6 separate regions of the Homo sapiens genome follow, and all the other regions are linked to region 1. The links come from fine-mapping of genetic effects on gene expression. A gene starts in region 1. Each other region holds a variant in brackets. All regions are shown on one strand. Distances are from middle to middle. Region 1 holds the start of UVSSA (UV stimulated scaffold protein A). Region 2 overlaps UVSSA (UV stimulated scaffold protein A). Region 3 has its middle 15 kb from the start of NKX1-1. Region 4 has its middle 6.2 kb from the start of NKX1-1. Region 5 overlaps MAEA (macrophage erythroblast attacher, E3 ubiquitin ligase). Region 6 overlaps UVSSA (UV stimulated scaffold protein A).

What was found. PIP is the estimated chance that this variant, and not a neighbour inherited with it, causes the effect.
Region 2: its variant is the best candidate, but not a certain one, in a credible set for the expression of UVSSA in sun-exposed skin (GTEx, PIP 0.71).
Region 3: its variant is the best candidate, but not a certain one, in a credible set for the expression of UVSSA in monocytes (BLUEPRINT, PIP 0.90).
Region 4: its variant is the best candidate, but not a certain one, in a credible set for the expression of UVSSA in T cells (TOPMed, PIP 0.56).
Region 5: its variant is the best candidate, but not a certain one, in a credible set for the expression of UVSSA in gastroesophageal junction (GTEx, PIP 0.59).
Region 6: its variant is the best candidate, but not a certain one, in a credible set for the expression of UVSSA in lung (GTEx, PIP 0.56).

The regions. Positions count from the first base shown.
Region 1 is chr4:1,345,187-1,349,287 of GRCh38, forward strand. It overlaps UVSSA (UV stimulated scaffold protein A), which reads left to right and starts at 2,022. Exons shown (of 14, transcript NM_020894.4): 1 at 2,022-2,574; 2 at 2,904-3,003. The coding sequence starts at 2,906. RefSeq lists enhancers at 1-262, 263-785, 2,631-2,710 and silencers at 1,081-1,170, 1,391-1,720, 1,961-2,400.
Region 2 is chr4:1,368,153-1,372,152 of GRCh38, forward strand. The region is part of intron 8 of UVSSA (UV stimulated scaffold protein A); the gene reads left to right. Among named protein-coding and RNA genes, the nearest start is that of UVSSA, 23 kb to the left of the region's middle. The variant C/T (reference allele first, on the strand shown) is at 1,889.
Region 3 is chr4:1,389,530-1,393,630 of GRCh38, forward strand. It overlaps a transcript of UVSSA not described here. Among named protein-coding and RNA genes, the nearest start is that of NKX1-1, 15 kb to the right of the region's middle. The variant A/G (reference allele first, on the strand shown) is at 2,184.
Region 4 is chr4:1,398,189-1,402,289 of GRCh38, forward strand. No RefSeq gene overlaps it. Among named protein-coding and RNA genes, the nearest start is that of NKX1-1, 6.2 kb to the right of the region's middle. The variant C/T (reference allele first, on the strand shown) is at 2,055.
Region 5 is chr4:1,306,218-1,310,318 of GRCh38, forward strand. All of the region lies in intron 1 of MAEA (macrophage erythroblast attacher, E3 ubiquitin ligase), which reads left to right. Among named protein-coding and RNA genes, the nearest start is that of MAEA, 18 kb to the left of the region's middle. RefSeq lists enhancers at 1,801-2,698, 3,596-4,101. The variant C/T (reference allele first, on the strand shown) is at 2,347.
Region 6 is chr4:1,383,940-1,388,040 of GRCh38, forward strand. It overlaps UVSSA (UV stimulated scaffold protein A), which reads left to right. Exons shown (of 14, transcript NM_020894.4): 13 at 1; 14 at 1,929-4,101. The coding sequence ends at 2,022. Among named protein-coding and RNA genes, the nearest start is that of NKX1-1, 20 kb to the right of the region's middle. The variant G/A (reference allele first, on the strand shown) is at 1,767.

The DNA of each region.
Region 1 (4,101 bases):
AATTGGCAGTGGCAATGAGGCAGTGGGACGTGCTCAGATCTGGATGTGTTCTGAAGGTAGGGCTGTCAGGATTTGCAAACCAAATGGGCATGGAGTGAGAGGAAGAGAGAAGCCCAAGTGAGTCAGATAATTGGTCCAAGCGAACAGAAGGATGCAGGGCAGGCCCAGGCACGGTGGCCCAGGCACGGTGGCTCACGCCTGTAATCCCAGCACTTTGGGAGGCCGAGGCGGGCGGATCACCTGAAGTCAGGAGTTCGAGACCAGCCTGACCAACATGGTGAAACCCCGTCTCTACTAAAAATTCAAAAATGAGCTGGGCGTGGTGGCGGGTGACTGTCATCCCAGCTACTCGGGAGGCTGAGGCAGGAGAATCGTTTGAACCCGGGAGGCGGAGGCTGCAGTGAACCGCGATCGTGCCACTGCACTCCAGCCTGGGTGACAAAGCGAGACTTTGTCTCAAAAAAAAAAAAAAAAAAAAAAAAAAAAAAGGCTGCAGGGCCATCAGCGGATACAGAGGGCAGTGGACGGGCAGCTTGGCTGTGCTGTTGAGCCTGAGGGCTGAGAGGACACCCCGGGGCAGTGTAAAGGAGACTGGACTTAGCAATTGGTAAGAAAAGTTGGATAAAGAGAGGGTTTTGTTAGTATGGGAGAAACGGCACCCTTTTATACTAATGAGAACTAGTAACAACAAAAAAAACCACGCTGTAGAAGACAGAGGGAAACTGCTGGATGGGTGCCTTGGAGGAAGCCACAGGCCGGGGATTGGATGCACAGGGCAAGGGGCGCTGAGGGAGGGTCTGGCTGCAGCTTGCTCAGTGAAGCAAGAGGCAGGGTGAGGAAGGGGTGAGGCGGAGGAGCGGCTCGGGGCTGGCTGCAAGCTAGGAGCTGGGAGCCACTGACGCCCAGGGACAGAAGCTGGTGCTGCAGAGAGGGGCGGCGCAGGGAGTCCCTCTTCTTTTCCTTTTTAAAATAATTGCTTTACTGAGATATAACTCACACATCCTGAAACCCACCCTGTAAAAACACGATTAACAGAGTTGTGAGCTACCACCACCGTAATGCAAGGGCACGCCCATCCCCCCGAAAAAGAAACCCCGGCCCGCCGCCGGCGGCCCCCGCCCTGCACCCAGCCCCGGGAGCCCAGTCGGGCGTCTGCTCTGCGTGGCCTGTGCCGGGCGCCCCGCGAGTGGGGTCCACACCACGCTCCTCCGAAGCCACGGTTTCCCAAGCGCGGTCTCCAGGTCCGTCCGTCCGCAGCCGACCTCGCACTCCCCTGCGTTCGAGGCTGCGGACTTCGGCGGCAGGACGGACGGCGCCTCTGCTTCTCATTCCGCCCAGGGCCAGCCCGGGCCCAGGGGTACCTGCTGTGCGTCTGGCGCCGAGGTGGGCCCCGAAGACCCCCAAGCCCGCCCAGGGATTCCCTTCCCGAGGCCGGAGCGGGGAGGCGCCGCGGGGTTCAGGGCGCCCTGCGCGGGGCGAGCTCGGGGGCGGGGGCCCGCGCCCGCCCGTCTGGGCGGTCCTCACCGGCCCTCTGCAGGTGAAGGGACCTGGCTGCGAGCCCGCGGGCGGGCGTGGCGTTGAGGCCCAGACCGGAACTTCCTTTCGGCCTCAGTTTCCCGGCCGGCCCCGCCCCCGGCGCCCGTACATGCGGCCCCTTTAAGGACTTTCTGCGCCCTCCCGCCTCTTTTTTCTCGTGCGTCCCCCTCCCCACCCCCGGCAGCCTGCCTCGCCCTCGCCGGGAGCGCGCCTACGTCACCGCGCAGACCTCGGCCGCGTCTTTGCGCCTGCGCCTCCTGGGCTGGGGTGAGCCATTGGCTGTCGAGCTCAGGGCACGTGCTAGGGGGCGGGGCCTTGACCGGAAAGGGTGGGGCAACGGCGAGAAAGGCCGCGTCGAGCGGTAGGTGCAGTCGTCGCTGTGGTGACCCCAGGTCCTGATGCGTCCGGCCCAGGGCCAGCCAATGGCGGTAGAGGTCTTGGGCACCTGACAAGAGGGGCGGTCCCCCCGCCGGAAGGGGCGGGGCGAGGCGAGCGGCCGCGTCAGCGGTAGGTGGGGCTGTGGTTACGCTGCCGGGCGGGGGTCGCGCCGGTTCGGTCCCCGGGGCTCTGCGGGCGCCGGGCAGAGACCTGCGGCCAGGGCGTGTCCCGTGTGCCCGAGAGCGCCGGCGGCGGGGCCGGAGGGCGGGCCCTGGGCCGAGTGACAGGCCGCAGCCCCCCGAGCACCGTCGAAGCCGGCGCGCCCGCCCGGTGCAGCCGCTGTGCGAGAGCGACCCCGCGGTCCAAGCCTCGCGTGGCCCTGCCGGGCCCCTTCTTTCCCCGAGTAGGGCGCAGCTTCCCAGCCTCCGCCCCGGCCTCGCCTGGCGCTTCCTTCCGGGTCCTTCGGCCTTTCCCTGGCGGTGCGGCAGGCCCTCGCCTCATCCCACCAGGCACGCCGCGGTGCTCGGCCCTGGGTATCCGGGCAGGCTGCCTCCGTTAGGGCCGCCCCTGCTCTCCGGACGCGACTTTTCATTGGTCTCAGAATTTCTTGGCTCCTCTTGGCCTCTGCAGCCTTGCTGGAGGCTGCCCTGCGGAATCTGAGTGAATAAGGGAAACAGCAACAGTCACGTTGGGGAAAAGCTGATTCGGACAGCGCCACTGGTTCCTTTAACGCACGACCCTCAATGCAGCGTCCCACACACGGGATTGTAGAGGTCCCGAGTTTAAGGTTCACTTTTAAAACTGCAATCACCGCCGTAAAGGCCTTGCTGGACACACATATTTCCCAGAGAGGCACCCACAGATGGACCCCAGCCTCAGGGTCCTCCCGGAGCTTTCGGTTTATAGTGGAACCCAGTAAACACGTTAATAACACCGAGAGCTATAAAATACAGATGGTGATATAGCATCTCTGCCTTACTTATTTCTAGATATGGATCAGAAACTTTCGAAGTTGGTAGAAGAGCTCACAACTTCAGGAGAACCCCGACTAAATCCTGAGAAAATGAAGGAACTGAAGAAAATTTGCAAGTATGTCTTAGGGTTCAGTAACAGTAACTGACTGGCCCACTGAGCCCAGGACACACACAGGGCCCTGCCCTCCTGCCCCCACCTGGGAGAGAACCACCCGAGGGACACACCCAGGACATTTTCTCGGGGCCCTGCAGTACCCGGCTCTGACGGGTGGTCATGTTCTGGGGTCGGGGCGTGTGGCGTTGGGGACCCCACTGCTCTGTGGTTGGTGCTTCTCTTCATTCCCATTTGTGTGGTCTGGAGCACATCCTGTAGGAGTTCTTGAGTGCACAAATGTGATTCAGAGAGAAACGTGCATCTTTTTCTTTGCTGCTGGACTTTTCGAAGGGAAAGAATAGAGCTTGCTGATGGGCGAGTTGGTCCATCGCCTTTAGGGTATGTCCACCTCTGTTCACTTCCTCCAAGGAAAACGCCGGAGGGGATCTCTGCCGTCACCCTCAGGCAGCCAGAGATTCATGGGGGAAGCAAAACTTCCCCTCGGAGGGTGGAGCATAAGTCGAGGACACTGATTATTCTGTATCCTGTGTTTGTAAAATGGCAGTTTATAGATTGTTTATACAGTGATGGAGTGTTGACATTTTGATAGAAAATTTCAGGTCAGGTTTTGTGGCCTGCGCCAGGAAATCGAATTCGCAATGGTTTATGTGGGGTCAGGAGCTGGGAATAGGAGCATTCAGGAGGGGCTGGGAGATGTCCCGAGCTCTAGGCCTTCCTTCCTTCCTGCAGCAGGAGGCACCCAGCTGAAACAGTGTGCGTGCTGGGCGGTGTGCGTTGTGCCAGGCGGTGTGTGTTTGTGCCGGGCGGTGTGCGTTGTGCCGGGCGGTGTGCGGTTTGTGCCAGGCGGTGTGTGTTTGTGCCGGGCGGTTGGCGTTTGTGCCGGGCGGTGGGCGTTTGTGCCGGGCGGTGTGTGTTGCGCTAGGTAACGTGTGTTTAAAGAGCCAGATGGTTTGTGTTTCAGGCTTTGCTGTAATGCCTCAGTTGTGAACACAGCTGTAGATGATGTAGGTGGATAGATGGGCGACGTTCCAATGACACTTTGTGAATGAACACCGACATTTGAAGTGTATATGATTTTCACATTTCACCAAGTATTTT
Region 2 (4,000 bases), 23 kb after region 1:
TCTCCCGGACCCCTCCTGGGCATCTTCAGAGTCTGGGAGCTGGCACTGACCCTTGGCCTGTAGTGTCACACATTTCCTGGCCTTGGGCCTCTGCACAGGCCTGTTATGATGGCTTCTGAACCTTTTCAGCAGAAGTTACACATCTTAGACGGGGTGACGTGTGGCGTCTCAAAAGCAGAAATCCACACTTTCCCTAAAACCTGACTTGTGGCTCTAAATTATCTGAAGCAAGGCCAGAAGCGAAACTCAAACGAGGTGACTTTCCCCAAAGAACAGAGCGGTCTCCTTTCATCAGAAGAGGTGAGGCTCCCCGGGCCTGTGGCCAAACACAACGGTGACAGCGCTCACTCGTCACCAGGCCTGGCCATCCCCTCCCCACTGAAGCCCAGGGGTCCTGAGCCCATCGACAATAGCGTCCAGCCAAGGGGGCCGAGCGGCCTCGCAGCCCCTGCCGGGTGTGCTGGGACGCCTGCTCTGACACAGCCCTGCTGCAGGTACACCGAGCCTCACAGGGTCACAGGTAGGCACTGGGCTTGGCAGTCCCGGCTAAGCCTCACCCGTAGGCTGTCCCAGCCTGACCCTGGTTGTGAAGGCACCTCCAGATGTGTGTCTCCAGCTCAGGCCCCAGGCTCAGCAGATGATGAGCTGTCCCTGCTGGGTCCGTCCTGGTCCAGGGAAGTGTGCACAGCTGGTGCACTGGCGGCTGGTTCTTTCGCTGCAGCCGCAGGTCCCCACAGCGCCCTCCTCTGCTGGCTCCAAGCCTCCTCCACTGCATGGCGCCTGCCCCTTTCCTCTCAAGGCCCACGCCTGCCCCGGTGGAGGGGAGGGTGCCTTAGACCTGCCCCGGTGGAGGGGAGGGTGCCTTAGAAGCTGGGAGCTCCATCACAGCCTTGCCTGGGGCAGGCAGAGGCCCTGGTGGTTTTATTGCCACTGATTGACTTCTTGAGGTGAGAGGGCTAACCACGTTCTGCCGTTCTGCCGTTCTGCCGTCAGCCTTGAAGGTGCCGATGTGCCCTGTGGGCCTGGCCTGGGTACCCTTGGCGGCCTTGCTGGGAGTCGACCGGGTGCGAGCATGCAGCACCAGCTGTACCAGCCCCAGGCGAGGGCTGGAGGGCCCAAAGGAGGGGGCAGGCCCTGGTGACAGAGCTGCCCTCTGGGGTGCGCAGGGAGGACCCCTGGCCCCACTCAGCTTCACACCCCGGGGGCCCCAGGAGTGCCGGAGGCGGGGACCAGGCGGGAAGCGTGGGGGCAGGCGGAGGGGCCAGCTCAGTTCATAACACTAGTTTATATTCTGCCGCTGTTTTTTCAATTAAACGTGGGCGAATCTGAAGTAGTTAGATTTAGTCTAAATCCACACCACGGAGGAAACCGTGCTCTTTTTCTTTCTCATTTCTTCCTCTGAATTTTCACTGAGGGGCCTTTATCTTCCCCTTAATCCTACCATTTCTGTCAGGACATAATCTCTTTCTCCAATTTACATTTTAATTACAAGGCCAGCTGAACTAGGTAAAATCAATAATGTCAGCGCTGGGCAGGCCGCCTGGGCGCAGAGGCCCCCCTCTCCGTTTCCTACCATCGATTCCCTCCCTCACTGTCTGCTTTGGTGCTTCAGGCAAATAGGTGCCACTTGGCCAATGTAAACAGAAAAGGGGATTTGGACATTTTTATGATTCTTTCTCAAAACAACTGTGGGAGTGAATTTGAGCCAAGATACTGGACTCGAGTGAGACGCCGTGCGGGCAAGGCGGGCGCCGCGTTCGGCTGTGACGTGTGGCCTCTTGTTTTCCGGGAGTCGTTATTCTTCCTGAAAATGCCCTCAGTGCCTGAGGAATGCTGTCTGATTTTTGGGGTTTTGCTTTGAAAGTATGTCAGAGAGATTGATTTTCCA[C/T]GCGATGCGCAAGTGGGAGTGTGTTTAGTGCCCTAAGTATTTACCCTGCTTTAACACGCTTACCCATCTTTTTAATGGTTTAAAACAACAAATCGATGAAAAATATATTTCATTCTTGTAACTCTTAGGAATTCTCAGATTGATCTTTTGGCTGCGATTGTATCTAAATGTCACATTGTTCACTTGTCAGTCTTGCCTCCGTCACTGTGAGCATGTGCGTGTGTGCGTGTGTGTGCATGCGTGTGCTGACAGCCCGTATCTGTGTCATGTGTATTGCCGGAATACTGAGGGGCACTTGGCAGGTTTGTGAGCAACACCCGGGACACGGCATTGAGTGCCAGCGCTGAGCAGGGGCTGCCCGGTGTCTCCCGGGTGCGCGCCTCGGGGCTGGAGGTCCGTCCCCATCACCTGCTCTGTGTGGCTCTGTCTCACACCCTCCGCTTTCAGCCCCTGGGAACCCAGGAAACGGGAGCAGCCTGGCAGGCGTGCAGCCGTGCACGGCTTAGAGGAGCTCCCGAGCGGGACAGGCACCTTCTGTGAAGGGCCAGAGCGCAGTCTCTCCAGCTTCGGGGGCCACATGAGGCCTTGTCTCCACGTGTAGATGGTGGGTGTGACTGGGTGCCAGTAACACCCTATTCACGAAAACAGGCGGTGGGCTGGACTTGGCTCATAGCCACAGGCTGGCGAGCCCTGCAGCTACTGAGCACAGGGTGCATGTGCCAGGCTGACCTCTGTCCAGAGAGTCAGTGGCCCAAGTCAGAGGTGGCTCCAGACAGCCCGAGTTCTGTGAGCCCTTTCAGACATGCAGCTTTTTCCTCCTCTGCAACTCAGGGACGGGGTCGGTGGCTCACTCCTTGATTCACGGGATGCTTGTCATGGGCCTGAGCAAGGCCCTTTGTCCTTACCCACTTCCCTCCCTGGAAGCCCCTGTGCCCGGCGGCCTTGCAGTACCCCCAGTTCTCATGCCTCCTCATTCTCCTCCCAGCTCTTCTCTCCAAACAGAGCATTCCCGGCTCTGCACATTGGTAAGTGGAGGCACTGTGGGTGTCCTCAGAAAGCCTGTGGTGAGCACATGTGTGTTCAGTGACAGCATGCCTGTAAGTACTTGTGTGTGGACGTGTATGTGTGTGTATGTACTCAGTAAGCCTGCACAAAAGAAGGCCTGCACGCTCTGCAGCTCACCCGTGTTCAGTGAGAGTACGTCTGTGGGTGGACCTGTGTGTGTGTGTGTGTGTGTGTGTGTGTGTGTGTAAAATCGATGACGTGTACATGACTTTCCGGGTGTCTGAGCTCTCTGGTGGCCTCTGTTTTTGACGCTCTGTTCTGTGGTCTCAGGACACAGTCTGGGCGGTGCTGATTCTTGGGAGGTGACTGAGGCCCCTGTTGACTTAGTACTTGGTTTTCTTTCGTCAGTTCCGCGTGTGTGTTGGAGAAGGGACTTCTTGCATAGTGTATTACTCCGTTTTCCTGCTGCTGATAAGGACATACCTGAGACTGGGCAATTTACAGAAGAAAGAGGTTTACTGGACTTAGCGTTCCACATGGCTGGGGAGGCCTCACAATCATGGTGGAAGGCAAGAAGGAGCAAGTCACATCTTAACGTGGATGGCAGCAGGCAGGGAGAGGGCTTGTGCGGAGAAACTCCCGCTTTTACAGCCGTCAGATCTCGTGAGACCCATTCACTCTCACGGGGACAGCACGGGGAAGACCCACCAGCTCCCTCCCACCACGTGTGGGAATTATGGGAACTATAAGATGAGATTTGAGTGGGGACACAGAGCCAGACCATATCAGATAGGAAATCTCACGGCATCTCTTAGTTTGGTGGTTTTGACTGTGCTGTACAAACCACCCGTGATACGGCTCATTCTTTCCCTAACAGCCACTTCCCAAGAGGGTTCGCCGAAGTCCCCACAGTCAGGGATACCTCTGCACCCGTAGCCCTCAGCATGGCTTCTTATGTTTTGAGACTGCATTTGTAAGTTACATATCTCTTCTTGTTTATTACACCTTCAAGCATTCCTTTTTTTACCCTCCTATTTTTTACTTAAAATCCAGCTTTTCTAGTACCCACATAGGACCTCCTCTGTCTTTTGGTCACTGTTTTCGTAG
Region 3 (4,101 bases), 44 kb after region 1:
ACTGGCTAATTTTTTAAAAGCTTATTTTTGGTAGAGATGGGGTCTCACTATGTTGGCTAGGCTGGTCTCAAACTCCTGGCCTCAAGAAATTTTCCTGTCTTAGCCTAGCAAAGTGCTGGGATTACAGGCATGAGCCACCACACCCAGCCCTAATTTTCTTTAAAATTTTTTTGTGGAGACAGGATCTTGCTGTGTTGTCCAGGCTGATCTTTGTCAAACTCCTGGCCTCAAGTGACCCTCCCACCTTGACCTCTCAAAGTGCTGGGATTGTGGATGTTAGCCAATGCTCCCAGCCTATTCATAGTATTTTCTGGTTTTAGTAATTTGATTCTTCTCTCTTTTACTCCCCTTAGTCTAGCTAAAGATTTATCAATTTTGTTGATCTATTTAAAGAAACAACTTCTGGTTTTGTTTATTATCCCCTATGATTTTCCATTCTTTATTTTGTTAATTTCCACTGTAATCTTTATTATTTCCTTTGGGTTGCTTTGGGTTTTATTTTCTCTTCTTTTTCTTGTTTCTTAAGATGGAAAATTAGCTTACTGATTTGAAATCTTTTTCATATAGACATTTGTAGCTATAAATTTTTATCTCAGCACTGATTTACTTCATCCCTTAAGTTCTGCTATATTGTGTTTTCCCTTTTTTAAATCTAAAAGTATATTCTGATTTTTCTGGTGATTTCTTCTTTTATCTCTTGGTTATTTAAGAGTTTGTTGTTTAATTTCCACATATATGTGAATTTCCCAGGTTTCCTTCTGTTATTGACTTCTTTTCTTATTTTTGAGAGACAAGATCTCACTTTATCTCCCAGGCTGGAGTGCAGTGCAGTGATCGCAGCTCACTGCAGCCTTGACCTCCCACCTCAGCCTCCTGAGTAGCTGAGACTACAGGCATGAGCCACCAAGCCTGGCTAAATTTTTAAAAATTTTGTTGTAGAGACAGGGTCCGACTATGTTGCCCAGGCTGTGTTGGAACTCCTGGGCTCAAGTGATCCTGCCACTTTTGCCTCCCAAAGTGCTGGGATTACAAGCATGAGCTACCATACCTGGCCTGTTACTGATTTCTTATTTCACTCCATTATGGCTAAAAAACATAGATTGTATGATTTCTCGTCTTTTATATGTATTGAGAGTTATTTTATTGGCATACCGTATTTTCTGTCCCAGAGTGTTGAAGAATATCTATCCTGCTCTTGTTGGGTGGAGTGTTGTATAGATGCCTGTTGGGTCTGATTGGTTTGTAGTGTTGTATAGACACCTGTTGGGTCAGAGGTTGGTTTGTAGTGTTGTATAGATGCCTGTTGGGTCTGATTGGTTTGTAGTGTTGTATAGATGCCTGTTGGGTCAGAGGTTGGTTTGTAGTGTTGTATAGATGCCTGTTGGGTCTGATTGGTTTGTAGTGTTGTATAGATGCCTGTTGGGTCTGATTGGTTTGTAGAGTTGTATAGATGTGTGTTGGGTCTCATTGGTTTGTAGTGTTGCATAGAAGCCTGTTGGGTCAGAGGTTGGTTTGTAGTGTTGTATAGATGCCTGCTGGGTCTGATTGGTTTGTAGGGTTGTATAGATGCATGTTGGGTCTGATTGGTTTGTAGTGTTATATGGATGCCTGTTGGGTCTGATTGGTTTCTAGTGTTGTATAGATGCCTGTTGGGTCAGAGGTTGGTTTGTAGTGTTGTATAGATGCCTGTTGGGTCAGAGGTTGGTGTGTGTGTTGTATAGATGCCTGTTGGGTCAGAGGTTGGTTTGTAGTGTTGTATAGAAGCCTGTTGGGTCTGATTGGTTTGTAGTGTTGTATAGAAGCCTGTTAGGTCTGATTGGTTTGTAGTCTGATTGTTTATGTCTTCTCTTCCCTTATTGATCTTCTGCCCAGTTATATTGATATTGAATGTGAGGTATTGAATCCTTCAGTTTTGTCAGCTTTTGTTTCATAAATTTTGAAGCTCTGTTAAGTGCATCTGTATTTCTATTTCTTTCTGATGAACAGACCCTTTTATCATTATGACATGTCCTTCTTTGTCTTTAGTGAAAAAAAAATGTCTTTAAGTCCCTTTTGTATGTTATTAGTATAGCCACTTAGCTCTTTTTTGATTATTGTTTGCATGGTATCTTTTTTCACCCTTTAACTTTCATTGTATCTCTGAATCTAAAGTGTGTTTCTTGTAAACAGCATATAGTGGGATC[A/G]TGTTTCTTATCTGTCCTGCTGGTCTCTGCCGTGAATCTAAAGTGTGTTTCTTGTAAACAGCATATAGTAGGATAGTGTTTCTCATCTGTCTTTCTGGTCTCTGCTCTGAATCAAAAGTGTGTTTCTTGTAGACAGCACATAGTGGGATCATGTTTTTCATCTGTCCTGCTGGTCTCTGCTGTTTGAGAGGGATGTTTAATCCATTTACATTCAGTGTGATTACTGAGAAAGTTGGATTTGTATCTGCCATTTCTAAATTTGTTTACTATATTGTCTTTTTTGTCTTTCTTCCTTTATTTCTCCATTACTTTTTTGTGTTAAATGGACATTTAATTCTCTTGTAACATTGTAATTTCCTTGTCTGTTTTACTGGGTTTTTTTAAAAGTAACTTTCTTAGCAGCTGCTCTGAGTATTACAGTAACAACGTAAAACCAATCAAGTGTTCAGATGAACTTAATATAATGTACAAAAACCTTCACTTCAAGTAGCTTTGTTTCCTCTCAGCTTCTTGGTGCTGTATTTGTCATATAAATGCTACCTTTTAGATTGTAAGTCCGTCAGCAGTCTTGTAATTATTGCTTTATGCAGTTGTCTTTTAAATCACATAGAAGAAGAAAAGATGTACAAACAGAAATGAGTTTCTGCTGTCTCTGTTGCTGGCTTTGCAGTTGTCTTTTTTGGTGCTCTTTGTGTGGATTTGAGTGTGGTGTCTTGGACTTCAGCCTCAAGTATTTCTTGTAGGACAGATCTTCTAGCAATGAATTCTCTTTGTTTTTGTTTATCTGAGAATGTTGTAATTTTTCCTTCTCTTCTGAAGAATAATTGTGCTGGATATGGCTGACTTGGTTGGCCCTCTTTTTCTTTCAGTCCTCTATAGATGTCATTCCACTGCCTCTGGCATCTGTGGTTTCCATGGCGGGAGCACCGCACCATGTCTCAGTCTCTTTTTAGCTTCTGACTGTTTGACTGTGGTGTGTCTAATTGTGGATCTTTCAGTGTGTCCTACCTGCAGTTCTTTGAGCTTCTTGGATATAGAGGTTAATATTTCTTGTAGTCTGATTGTTTACATCTTCTCTTCACTTATTGATCTTCTGCCTAGTTATATTGATATTGAATGTGGGTATTGAATCCTTCGGTTTTGTCAGCTTCATGTTCAGCCAGTGACTGGACAGGGGACCCCTTTAAGTGCTTTGCACCAGTAACTCTCATGGTTCTGCTGACACACAGTTGATGTGTGGTGAGTATGCCTTCAGCGCTCCATTGTGGTTCTGCAAATTTGGGAAATTTTAGGTTGTCGTTTCTCGAAATATTTTATGTCCATGTTCTCTTCCCCCACTTGGACTCCAGCTACGTGTGTTGATGTGGAGCTGGGCACAGCCTTGGAGGCCTCCTTGACTTTCCTTTATTCCGGAATTTTTTCTTCTTCTCAGAATGGGTCATCTCAGTTGACCTATCTTCAAGGTCACAGATGCTTTTGCCAAACAAAACCTGATGTCAAGCTGCTCTAGTGAATTTTTCATTTCAGTTATTGTACTTTTCTACTCCAAACTTCCATTTGGCTCTCTCCTATAATTTCTGTATCTTTACTCATATTCTTTGTTTAGTGAAACATTCTCATACTTTAATTCTGTAGACACAGTTTCCTTTAGTTATTTGAACATATGTGTAGAAGCTGATTTAAAGTACTTGTCTAAGCCGGGCGTGGTGGTGTGCACCTGTAATCCCAGCTACTTGGGAGGCAGAGGCAGGAGAATTGCTTGAACCCGGGAGGCAGAGGTTGCAGTGAGCCAGGATCAAGCCATTGTACTCCAGCCTGGGCCACAGAGCGAGACGCTTTCAAAACTAGATAGATAGATAGATTAGATAGATAGATAGATAGATAGATAGATAGATAGATAGATAGGATAAGATAAGAT
Region 4 (4,101 bases), 53 kb after region 1:
TGTGGGTAGATCAGGTTGGATGCCGGGTGTTTTCGGGCATCTGGATGTGGGTAGATCAGGTTGGATGCAGGGTGTTTTCGGGCATCTGGATGTGAGTAGATCAGGTTGGATGCCGGGTGTTTTCGGGCATCTGGATGTGGGTAGATCAGGTTGGATGCAGGGTGTTTTCGGGCATCTGGATGTGAGTAGATCAGGTTGGATGCCGGGTGTTTTCGGGCATCTGGATGTGGGTAGATCAGGTTGGATGCCGGGTGTTTTCGGGCATCTGGATGTGGGTAGATCAGGTTGGATGCCGGGTGTTTTCGGGCATCTGGATGTGGGTAGATCAGGTTGGATGCAGGGTGTTTTCGGGCATCTGGATGTGAGTAGATCAGGTTGGATGCCGGGTGTTTTCGGGCATCTGGATGTGGGTAGATCAGGTTGGATGCAGGGTGTTTTCGGGCATCTGGATATGGGTAGATTGGGTTGGATGTGGGGAGGGTGCTTGGTGCCTGGGGTTTGCTCTGAGGCTGTGGGGCTGGCTTGGTCTGGGAGGAGCTTGGTCTGGCTTTGTGGTGCCTGGAGGGCCCCTGGCCCCCGGGGGGACATCGCAGGGCAAGGACAGGGCGAGGCACACCATTACCAGGACACTGCGGGGCAAGGACAGGGAGAAGCACACCATTGCCAGGACATCGCGGGGCAAGGACAGGGCCAGGCACACCATTGCCATGGCAGGAAGGCAAGTGGAGGATGAGGGTTCCCCAAGCCCAGGCTGCCCAGGACTCGGAGCAGGAGGAACCAGCCACCAAGTGAGCAGGGGGCTGAGGAGGCCACGCCAGGATGGGGCAGCCAAGGGCCCGAGTGACGGCGAGAGCCTCCTTAGGGGTGGAGAAGTGAGGAGGAAGTGTAGACAGCAGGTGTAGACGGCTCTTTCGATACTTTGGCTGGAGGCTGGGAGGAAAGGGGGAGAGCTGGAGGCCACACGGGGTCCAGGGAGGGTTATGCCTAAGCCTGGAGACACTGGACGCATCTGAAGCCCAGCAGGGGCTGTCTCCCCTGGCAGGACGCAGGCAGGTGACAAGATCCTATGGCTGGAAGATGGGCTTGGACCTGTGGCCAACCCAGGGTGGGGTTATGGAGAGGGTACACCAGACACCTTAGGGTGTAGGAGCTGGGTGCCCACCAAGGTCGAGGCCCTGGGCTTCGGAAAAGACCAGGCGGGCTGAGGGCGACTTTCTTCAGAAGCCCAGCTGCCTGGGGCTGGGGGTGTGGGCAGGTGGGCATGGGTGGGGAGCACAGGGGGGCTCGGCAGGGGCAGCCGGTGGCCCCAATCCATCCTCACCTTTCACTAGGAGTGAGATGCCTGGGGGGAGACTGCACTTCCCAGCCTCCCTTGGCTAAGAGAGGGCCCGTGACCCAGCTCTGGCCAATGGGACATAAGCAGCTGTGTTGTGTGGGCTTCCGGGAAAGCTCCTTAAAAGAGAGGGGTGTTGCTGGCCACTCCCTTTCTTCCTGTTTGCAGCCGGGGGTGAGGATGTGGTGGCTGGAGCCTCAGTTTCCATTGGGTTCTGTGAGGCTGAGGCCCGTCCAGGCCTGATGCAGCACAGAGAGCCAGGAGCTGGGTCTCCAAGGACTCAGTGAAGGTCTCAAAACTGCCCAGGGCTGCCACGGCCAGAATTCCCTCACAAAGAGAAAGTAAACAGTCTCCTTTCAACTCTCTTCATTCAGGTTTTCTCTTACACGCAGCCAAACCCAGGCCTGACCCACACAGCAATGGACCACAGCACCATCGGCTGGTGGGGGTGGGGAGGTGGCCTCAATGGGAGGCCCCTTACCGTCTGGGCTCAGCGGTCCCTGGGCAGGAGACGGGAGCCCAGGGCGTGAGAGCAAACGCCGCCCTTGTCTGGGCTCATGCTCGCTTGACAAGAGGCCCCTTCTGTGCCTGGCTTTGCAGCAACGACATGTGTGTGGTTCTGGGAACTTGGGGCAGGTGTGGTCCAGGGCAAGATGGGTCCTGAGCCCTAGGAGGAGGGTCCATGGAAGAGTGCCCTCAGATCCTGAGGTTGAGACCTTCC[C/T]TCACGGCCCTGACACCAAAGTGGGGGACACGTTGAGACCCCTAACAAGGCTCCCGCTCACCTCTGCCTGCAGCACAGGCCCAGGGAGCTGAAACTGAGTCAGGCACAGGCAGCCTAGACTGGAAATGGCGGGCAGGGGAGGCCCAAACCTGGTGGAAATGGGGGTGGTGGGGCAGCCCGAGGGCTCCCTGGGAGGCAGGCAAGGGAATGGCTCCCCAACTCTCCCAGGGAGACTGGGGGCCTGGGGACCCAGTAGGAGTGTGGGCTAAAAAGTGGAGGCTCCTTCAGGAGGGAGCAGGGCACCCACTGGCACCAGAGCTGGCACTGCCCCCAGCAAGCCCCATGACTGCCGGGCCTCAGTTTCCCACATGTGACTCTCAGCAAAGCACAGTGGGAGGCTCAGGTGGCTTTGCACGCAGTCCGACTCCGACGAGGGTCCGCTGCAGAGTGACTGTGAATCAGAGACTGGAGGAAATGCCCCCCATGCCTGCAGCATGAGGCTGTGGGCTGTCCAGGGAGCTTAGAGAAGGGGTGGTGCAAGGAGGGGGGTATTGCTTCCCAGACCTCACAGCCCCCGGCCCATACCCTCCATCCCATCCTGCAGCCCAGGGGCACTGCTAGAGGGCCCTCCGGTGTGGCTCTGTGTTTCTGGCTGAGGCTTGAGGGGAGGAGACAGAGGAGGCCAGGGTGGGGGCATGTGGAAGCTGGAGGGACGGGGAGCCAGGATCTAAGCTCCATGGGAGGGCTGCACACAGCGGTCTGGCCCGGCTCTGAGTGGGTCTGAATCTGGCCTGCACCGTCGCAGCCACCTTCTATCATCTCCCTGTGGGGCTGTGAGCTCCTGGAATGTTCCAGCAAGCTCAGCAAAGGGGAAGGCCCTTGCAGCACAGACCTGGGTTCCTCCTGGCCACGCAGCAGCTGCTTTCCCACTCAGCAGCCCCAGTGCCCAGCTTAGGCCAAGCCCGCTGCACTGGCTTCAGCTGTGAGTCGACCCTCTGGCTACACTTGGCCACCTGCAGGTGGCTCGCCTTCCCTCATGGACCCCCACCGAGCAAGTCTGAGCTCTGCCAGCGGAGGGAGGAGGGAGGAGGGAGGAGGGAGGAGGGAGAGGCTGCCCTGCCCCCGGGCTGGTGAGCCTCAGGACGCTTGCTGCAGGCAGGTGACTTCACCTATGCGGACCCAGAAAGGGAGCAGAGAGCAACTGGGAGTCAGGCCGGCCCTTGGCTGGAGGAACCAAGGCCTGCCTGGGGCTTGGGGTGTGGGGGCAGCAAACACACAGGGTGATCCCAGCCGCCCCTGCGCCCCGCCCCCTCAACCTGCCCGATGGCCGGTGCTGCTCTGGGCCTGCTCTCTGTCCACAGGTGCTGGCCAGGCCAGTGGGCAGCAGTGTCTCCCATCTTGCCTGTGGCACTGGGTATTCACTGCCGCCACCTGCCCCCAGCCCTCCCCCAGTGGTTGCTGTCAGGTTGACAGCCCAGAGATGAGCTCAGCCCACTCACGGAAAATGGACAGGACACCAGGAGACTGGGCCCAGTCAGGGCACAGCCGCCAGGCAGAGCCAAGCTCCCTCTGTGAGGCAGGACTCAGGACTCCCGCCAGTGGCAGAAGAGGGGCAGCACCTGCCCGGCTGTGGCCAGTGTCTCATGCCGCCTCCCCACCCTTTCTGGGGCTCTGAACCCTCCTCCCGTCGCCCTTCCCCGCTTCCAAGCACCAGCTTTTGCATCCACACTGCCGCCCAGCCCAAGCGCCTCTGCCTCTCACCTCCCTGAGCCCAGCTCAGGCGAACACCAAACCCACAGGACTCCGAGAGCCTGTGAGGGGATGTAGGGACTGTTTCCAGCGTCGTTGGAGGAGAGGTGGCAGCTCCAAGAGGGAGCACTCGACCCGACTTTTGGGGGCCTGGGTCTGAATGGGCTGGGACGCTCTTGGGCAGGTAGCTGAGCCCAGGCAGCCCCTTCTCCCCGGGGAAAACAGGCAGGCGCTTCTTCCTCCAGGCAGTAGCCGAAGCTGACACCGCCCCCAAGCTGACACGCCTAGCCCGGTGCTC
Region 5 (4,101 bases), 39 kb before region 1:
TTCACCATCGCGCTTTCCGCTGTGGTCTAATTTGCATTTCCCTGATGACTCATGATGTTGCACGTCTTCCTGGAGATTACCTGCCCTTCATAGAACTTCTCTGTGATGTTCCTGTTCAAACCTTTTCCCCATTAAAAAAATGGGATTGCTAACCGGGCGAGGTGGCAGGCACCTGTAGTCCTAGCTACTCAGGAGGCTGAGGCAGGACAATCACTTGATCCCGGGAGGCGGAGGTTGCAGTGAGCCGAGATCACGCTATTGCACTCCAGCCTGGGTGATGGAGTGAGACTGTGTCTCAAGAAAAAAGAAAAGAAAAGTGGGTTGGGGGGCTTGCTTGTCGTAATACTGAGGCTGCAGGAGTTGGCTGTATTCCAGATGGAAGCCCTTTGTCAGCTGTGCTGTGAAGGCCTTCTCCCAGTCCATGGCTCGTGTTCTTAACTTTCTTACATTGTTTTCTGAAGAGCAGAAGTTTTAATTTTGATAAGGTTCAGAGGATGGATTTTTCTTTTACAGTTGGTACATTTTGTATCCTTCTAAGAAATTGTTGCCTGTCTCAAGGATGCAAAGATTTTCTCCCTTGTTTCCTTCTAAGGAGTTTCACAGTTTGAGCTTTTGTGTTTAGGTCCGTGATCCATTCGGAGGCACTTTTCATGGGATGTGAGGTTTGGGTTGAGGGCCATCCCTTCCCTGTCCTGGCTGTTGCAGAGACTGTCCTTCGCCTCAGTTGCCTTGGCCCCTTGGCTGTATGTAAATGGACCCTGCCTGTGGGTCTTTTTCTGGGTTCCCCACCCTGTATTGACCCCTGCATCCATTCCTAGACCAGTGCTGTACTGGCTTCAGCACTCTAGCTTTATGAGAAGTCTGGCAGTCAGGTGCCATTTATCAAAATTCATTAGAATTTTTGTTAACATTTTTTAATTTAAAAAGATACTGTTATATATGTATACAATTTGCCATCAACCATTTTATACAGCAACCACTTTATCCATTTATAGCGTAGACACCGTTCCGTAAGCACACAGTACAGTCATACCATCTATATCACCATGACCCTCTCATCTTGCAAACCGGAAACTCCATAGCCATTGAACAAAACTGCCTCCTCCCCACCCCAGCCCCTGGGATCCACCATTCTGCTTTATGTGTCTAAGAGTTGGACTGTGTGAGATACCTCATACAAGCAGAGTTAGCAGATTTGTCTTTTCATGGTTGACTTATTTCACTTAGCATAATGTCTTCAAGGTTCACCCATGTTACAGTGAGTGAGAGGATTGCCTTCTTTTAAAAGGCTGAATACTGTTCCACTGTGTATTGTGTTACTTGTCCCCAGGGGGACGGAACTCATAATATATAGAGGTAGATGAGGGGATTTATTGGGGAACTGGCTTGTGTGATTACAGAGGCTGAGTCCCGCAGCAGACCTGCACCCCAGAGACCCTGGGAAGCTGGTGCGTGGCTCAGTCCAAAGCCAAAGGCCTGAGAACCCTGGGGGGATGCTGGTGTAAGTCCCAACATCCAAAGGCCAGAGACCCTGGAGTTCTGATGCCAAAGGGCAGGATCCCAGCTCCAGGAGGGACAGGAAATTGCTTATCCTCTGACTTTCTTGTTCTGTCTGGGCCCCAGCGGACTGGATGGCACCACCTACCTGGAGGACATCTTCCCACTCACCCACCAGTCTCCTCTGGAAACACCCGCACAGGCACACCCAGAAGTAATGCTTCACAGGTTCTCTAGGTATCCCAAATCCCATCAAGTTGATGCCTGAAATGAACCATTACCTGTGCAGATACGGTCATGTGTCACTTACATGGAAAAACTCTCAGAAATGCATCGTTAGGCGACTTTGCGGTGTGAACATCGTGGAATGAACTAACAGGAGCCAGATGGTGTGGCTGCTGCACGCCCGCACCGTGGTACAGCCTGTGGCTCCTGGGCTGCAAACCTGTACAGCATGTCACTGCACTGAATACTGCAGGCAGCTGTTCCACGGTGGTGTTTTGCATGGAACACATCGAAACATAGAAAAGGTGCAGTGAGAATGCAGTATCCTAATCTTAATGGGACCACTATCACCTGCACGGTCTGTTGTTGACCAAAATGTCGTTATGTGGTGTGTGACTGCCACGTTTTCTTTCTTCATTCCCCTGGTGATGGACATGTGGGTGGCTTCTGCCTCGTGGCTGCCATGAACACAGGTGTGCAGATACCTCCTGGGACCCTGCCTTCAGTTCTCGTGGCCTACTGGGGACTCAGGAGCCTTGTGCCTAACGTTCTGAGGAATTGCCTCGCTGCTCTACACGCTGCGCCGGGCACGTTCCCTGGCACTGCACGCGTGTCCCGCTGCTC[C/T]GCTTCCTGCCGTGGCATAGCTTTCGGTGTTGAGTGATCGCCGTCCTAACGGGCACGAGGTGATGCCTCACGTCTGCACTTGTGTCTCCTGAGCAGTGGTTGGTCGTGTGGAGCATCTTGTCATGTGCCGCTTGGCCATTGGTTTATCTTCTCTGTACAAGTGTCTAAGTCCTTCACCCATTTTAAAATTGGATATTTCCTTTGGTTGTGGAGTTGTAGGCGTTTTTAAAAGTGCATTCTGGATAGTAGCTCCATATGCAGATCCCTGGGTTGCAGCTATTTTTTCCCATTTTTTACTCTGTTGGTTTTTCCTGCTCTGCAGTTTTTAAGTTTGATGTAGTCCCATTTGTCTCTTTCTGTTGCCTGTGCTATTAGGAATCTATTTTTAATGCTTTGCCCCTTTTCACTGTTCTTCCTATGATACGGTCTGTGAGGTTGCCTGTCCTCATTTGGGCGAGCTGTATCTTCTGCGGGCTCATCTCTGCAGTGCTGTTTCTTGTGTCTTAGAATCTGCTGGCCCCTCTCTGCATTGCTGTTTCTTGTGTCTTACATTGTCTTTGTCCACGGATTTATTGTGTTTGATCACTAAGCAATATTTCTGAGTAGTTTTTCTGCCAGGAAGGTTTGTGTGTGCTCAGCTTTCAGCCCTTGCGTATCTGAAAGTAACTTCAGTTTGTCCTCATTCTTGAGTGATAATTTGGCTCGAGTTAGAGTCTTTAGCATTTCTGAAATTCCACTCACTCGGTCACCAAATGCCCTTTAAGGAGCCTGTGAAGGGGCTCTTGCTAACCAGCCAGCCCAGGCCAGTGGAGGGGAGCTTTTAGGGCCCGGAGTCACGTGCTGAGTCCCCCGGAAGAGGAGGCGGTGCTTTCCGGGGCTGGCCTGGCTCCTCTGGGGGGCGTGGATGTGGGGAGGAGCTGCTGTCTGGGTCAGCAGCTGCCCTGCTGGAGGGAGAGGGGGTGCTGCGCTCATCCCCTGAACTCAGATTGGATAGCCCCGGGCCAGCGCTGGAGGAGGAGCAGAGGCAGGGAGGTGGGAGGAGCGTGCGCAGAGGCGTGGGAGGCCTGAGGAGTAAGCGGCTGGATGTGGACCCTGAGAGCCACTGGCAGGGAGGTGGGGTCTTCCAGTTGTGAAGACACCGTGGCCCCGGTGAGCCCCTCCCCGGCCTCCTTCATGCCTGCGTTCTGCGTAACCGTGGCGCGTTCTGGGCAGGGCCTTTTCCCTTGCACTGGGAGCAAAGGGTTCCTGTCTGCAGCACACCAGCTGCCCGGAGCTCTGCCCTGTGCCTGAGCAGCGTCAGCACCGCGGTGAGGCGGACGGCCCGGCAGGGGTTGGAAAGTCCAGAAAGGCCCCGTTCCCGCGTAGAACTTGAATGCAGCTAAGGGACGTCCAGAGAGGCCTTTCCTTTTCTGGTGGCGGTCTGGAATGTGCTGGTGTGCGGATGCTGTGTGGGTTCCTCCGCGCGAGCGAGGGTGGTTGTGCCGCTTTGTCTAATGGTCTAATGGCGAAGACTTTCTGTCCTGCTCTTGTGAGGCGCCTGCACAGGCAGAGCAAAGACTGAGTATATGCCTTGCGTCCTTTAGAAATTCCACCTCGTGGCAGGACACACTCAGATAGGGTCTCCAGTGGGAGAGTCCTGCAGGCCGGTGTCGGGCTGTGGTGTCAGGGCCTCGGGGGGGCCTTCCCCAGTGGGTCTCGTTGAGCTCGCTTGCACTGGTCAGGTATTTATGGAGAGCTGAAGTGCTGTCTGCTGTG
Region 6 (4,101 bases), 39 kb after region 1:
AGTAAGAGTGGCTGCTGGGTCACCTCCCACCGCGTGGCCCCCCCGTGTGAGGGTGTTCGAGGGGGGCCATCTGAGCGCCAAGATATTCCAGGGACTTGGGGCCTCCAGGGGCTCCCCTGCTTTGAGTTCCCCTGGGGGACCACCCAGCCTTTCCCCGGGGAGGGGCAGTGCCAGCCAGCAGGGGCAGCAGGCAGGTCTGCTCAGGAACGCCCCCCAGCATTCCCCAGGATAAGAGGGGCTCGACCGCCAGGCACCGCCATCCTCGCTTCCTGGGGGAGCCATGCCAGGACACAGGCCTTGGCTGGTGCAGAGTGAGCCCCTCGTCTCTCCCTTGCCTGGCTGTACCCCCAGGTCAGTGCCTGCGTATTTCTGCAGCGGTGACTTCAGGGAGGGCGATGACTGCAAAGGCGGGCAGAACGGGGGTCCACGCGTCAGCCCCAGCAGAGCCCAGCCCCAGCATGTCTTCTCTGAGCACTGGCTCTGGGAGGCTGGCCTGGTGTCTCTGCAGCCCAGCATGGGCCTGTGTGACTGGTGAGGACTTGGCAGGGCCAGAGTGCGAAGCCCACCAGCCCGGCGTCCCTGCGTGCAGTCTGTCAGCTGGGGCACCAGCCACTCGCACGGCCTTGTGTTTCTGTCTTCATATTGCCTTGTTCTCGCCTAAGAAAATCCAGAATGCTTGTTTAGAAGCCACCTGAGGCTGTTGACTCCCTCCCAAATCTGTGTCAAGTCCCTGCTGGTGCAGGTTTGTCTGGTAGCACCAGTGAGGTGGCCCCCACCCATCGCCATCCCAGAAACCCTCCCTTGGACACACCTGGAAGGTGCTAAGTGCACCGGGCAGAGGAGGCCCCTCCTGGCCAGCATGACCGTGCACCGGCCTGAGTGGGCTCGGGTGGGAGGCGCCTTCACAGCACTCAGACCAGGCTTCCCCCAGGCTTGTGGGTGGTACATCCACAGCCTTGCTTGGGTGGGGCAGGGGCGCTGGTGGGGGCTGTGGAGAGGCTGCCTGGGGCCCCTGGCACAGGGCTGGACCCATCCCGTATGCCAGCCACCCAAGGCACCTTAGCCCTTGGAGCTCAGGGTGAGGCTGTTTTCCCGTGGATCAGCCAGGGGCAGAGGCCAGCCTTGGTGCTGATGCCCAGGAGGAGGAATGGCCAGTGGGCCCATGCCAGGCCTCCTCCCTGTGTCTCATGGGGACACTGAAGCCCATGGCAGGAGCTGGCTCTTCGCCACAGCTGTGTGGCCCAGACCCCTCCCTACAGAAAGGATCTGGGGTGACCACAGGCAAAACCCTGCCTCGAGGGGCCCCCACAGCAGCGCCTGGCAGCCCCACAGGGGCCGCAGCTGAGCGGCAGCTTCACCACATTGTGGCCTCAGGCCCTGCTGGCTCCACAGCTCCACACCCTCGTGGGTCGCAGCAGCTGAGCTGGTCAGCACAGCACACCTCATCCTGCTCCCCGGAATGCCTGCCTGGCCCGTGCCCCCCCTGCTGCAGCCCTCCAGGTTTCCAGCCCTGGCCGTGGAGCCGTGCGTGCAGCAGCGGGCAGGGCTGTCCTGACGCCTCCTGGCTGCATCTCCTGCGAGGCCGCTCCCCGGGAGGCCAAGGGGGAGGCTGCCCTCATCCTGGAGTGCGGGAGGCCACGGGAGAAGTGCCAAGGTGGGGCTGGGGCCACCTTCACCGCGCAGAACCACCCGCCGCAGACTCCGCTTCTGGGACCTGGGGCGGCCCTTTCTAAGCCTGTCTGTCTCGGGCCAGGGCCAAGGGGCCC[G/A]TCGCCCATCTGTCTCTGAAGGTGGCACCCACAGGCAGTCTGTCAGTGTCCGAGGGCAGCAGTTGCCCCAGGACCAGTGCCTAACTTTGGTGATGCCGCCACTGGGAGCCCAGGCCCCTGGCGGAAGCCTCCCAGGTCACATCTTGCCTTGTTTCCCCACAGGGCAGCTGTGCGGAGGGTAGTGGCAGCCATGAACCGGATGGACCAGAAGAAGCACGAGAAGTTTTCAAACCAGTTTAACTACGCACTGAACTAGAGAGCGGGGCCCAGTGCACTGGCCATCAGCACTTTCTCCCTCTGCCAGTGTCTCAGGACAGCAGAGTGGGCGTGGGTCTGGGCAGTAACCATGCTTTGTCTATTACTGTGTTTGATGTAAAGAAATGGTGTGTTGCAATGCCCTGAAGGTACGGCCGCTCTGCTGCTACAGGGTTCGGCATCGTCTGGTGATGGGTCTGGCCTCGCAGAAGAGGCCCTCGGGCCTGGAGATGTGAACACAGGCAGCGACCCTGTTCCAGAGGGCTTCTGCGAGTCCTCGTGAGACCAGTGCTTGTCGTGGTGTGGGGTTCAGCACGGACGGAATGTGTGTGCAGCTCAGCCTTCAGAGCGTGCATTCCCCAGCCAGGAGGCGACCACTCAGAGGAACTCTGGGAAACCCACTTTTGTGCAAATGCTGTTTTTAACACAAACACAAAGGCTAGTGAACCGTTCAGTCATCTGCTTTCTGTTTCTGGATGTGCCTTTTCATACATGTGTCCTCTTGTCCCTGGCTTCTTACACTTGGCGTTGTTTTTAAGGTTTATCCATGCAGTTCCCCTCCAATGTATAAAACAAAGGAGGTGAAAACCTGTCCATGCGGAAGCTTGTGCACCCATGTTCACAGCAGCATTGGAGAAGGATACCGAACATCTTCTCGTGGGCTTACTGGCCATTTGTGTATCTCCTTTGGAGAGGAGTCTATTCAAACCTCTTGCCTATTTTTAATTGAATGATTTATCTTGAGTTGTAACAGTTGTTTTTTTTGTTTTTCCTTTTAGAGATGGGCTTTTGCTCTTACCCAGGCTGAGTGCAGTGGCAGAATCATAGCTCAGTGCAGCCTCAAACTCCTGGGCTCAAGCCATCCTTCCACGTCAGCCTCCCAGGTAGCTGGGACTACAGGCACACACCACAACACCTGGCTAATTTTTTAAATTTTTTGTAGAGATGAGGTCTCACTGTGTTGCCCACGGTGATCTCGAACTCCTAGCCTCAAGCGATCCTCCTGCTTCGGTCTCCCAAAGTGTTGGGATTACAGGCATGAGCCACCACTCCTGGCCAGGAGTTTATATGTATACTGTGGATACTAGATCCTCATGTGATTTGCAAAAACTTTATTTATTTATTTATTTATTTTTGAAATGGAATCTTGCTCTGTCGCCAGGCTGGAGTGCAATGGCGTGATCTCGGCTCACTGCAACTACCACCTCCTGGGTTCAAGCGATTCGCCTGCGTCAGCGTCCTGAGTAGCTGGGACTACAGGCGCGCACCACCACGCCCAGCTAATTTTTGTATTTTTAGTAGAGACGGGATTTCACTGTGTTGGCTGGGATGGTCTTGATCTCTTGACCTCGTGATCCACCCACCTCGGCCTCCCATAGTGCTGGGATTACAGGTGTGAGCCACCGCACTCAGCTGATTTGCAAAAACTTTCTTCCATACTGTTGTTTCACTTTCTGGATAGTGTCCTCTGAAGCACAAAAGTTAATTTTGATGAAGTACAGCAATTTATCTGTTTTTTTCTTTTGTTGCTTATGCTTTTGCTGTCACATTTCAGAAGCCATCACCTAATCCAAGATCACAGAGATTTACACCTAGTTTCTAATAAGCATTTTATAATTTCAGCTCTTATGTGTAGATCTTTGATCCATTGTGAATTAAGTTTTGTGTGTGGTGTAAGAGCCCACATTCTTTTGCATGTGGATATCCAGTTGTCCCAGCACCATTTGTTGAAAACATTATTTTTCCCCATTGAATTATCTTCGCACCATTATTGATAATCAGTTGACCAAAAATGTACAGGCTTATTTCTGGGCACTTGACTCTATTCCATTGACCTGTTTAACCTTATGCCAGTGCCACAGTGCCTTGATCAGTGCTGCTTTGTTGTGAGAAGTTTTACTTTGTTCTGCTTCAAGGCTGTTTTGACTCTTCTGCATCTCTTGCATTTCCAAATGAATTTTAGGATCCACTCATCAGTTTCTTCAAAAAAAAAAAAAAAGCAGCTGAGATTTTTGATAGGAATTACATTAAATCTAGAGATTGCTTTGGAATGTATTACCGTCTTAATATTAAATCTTCT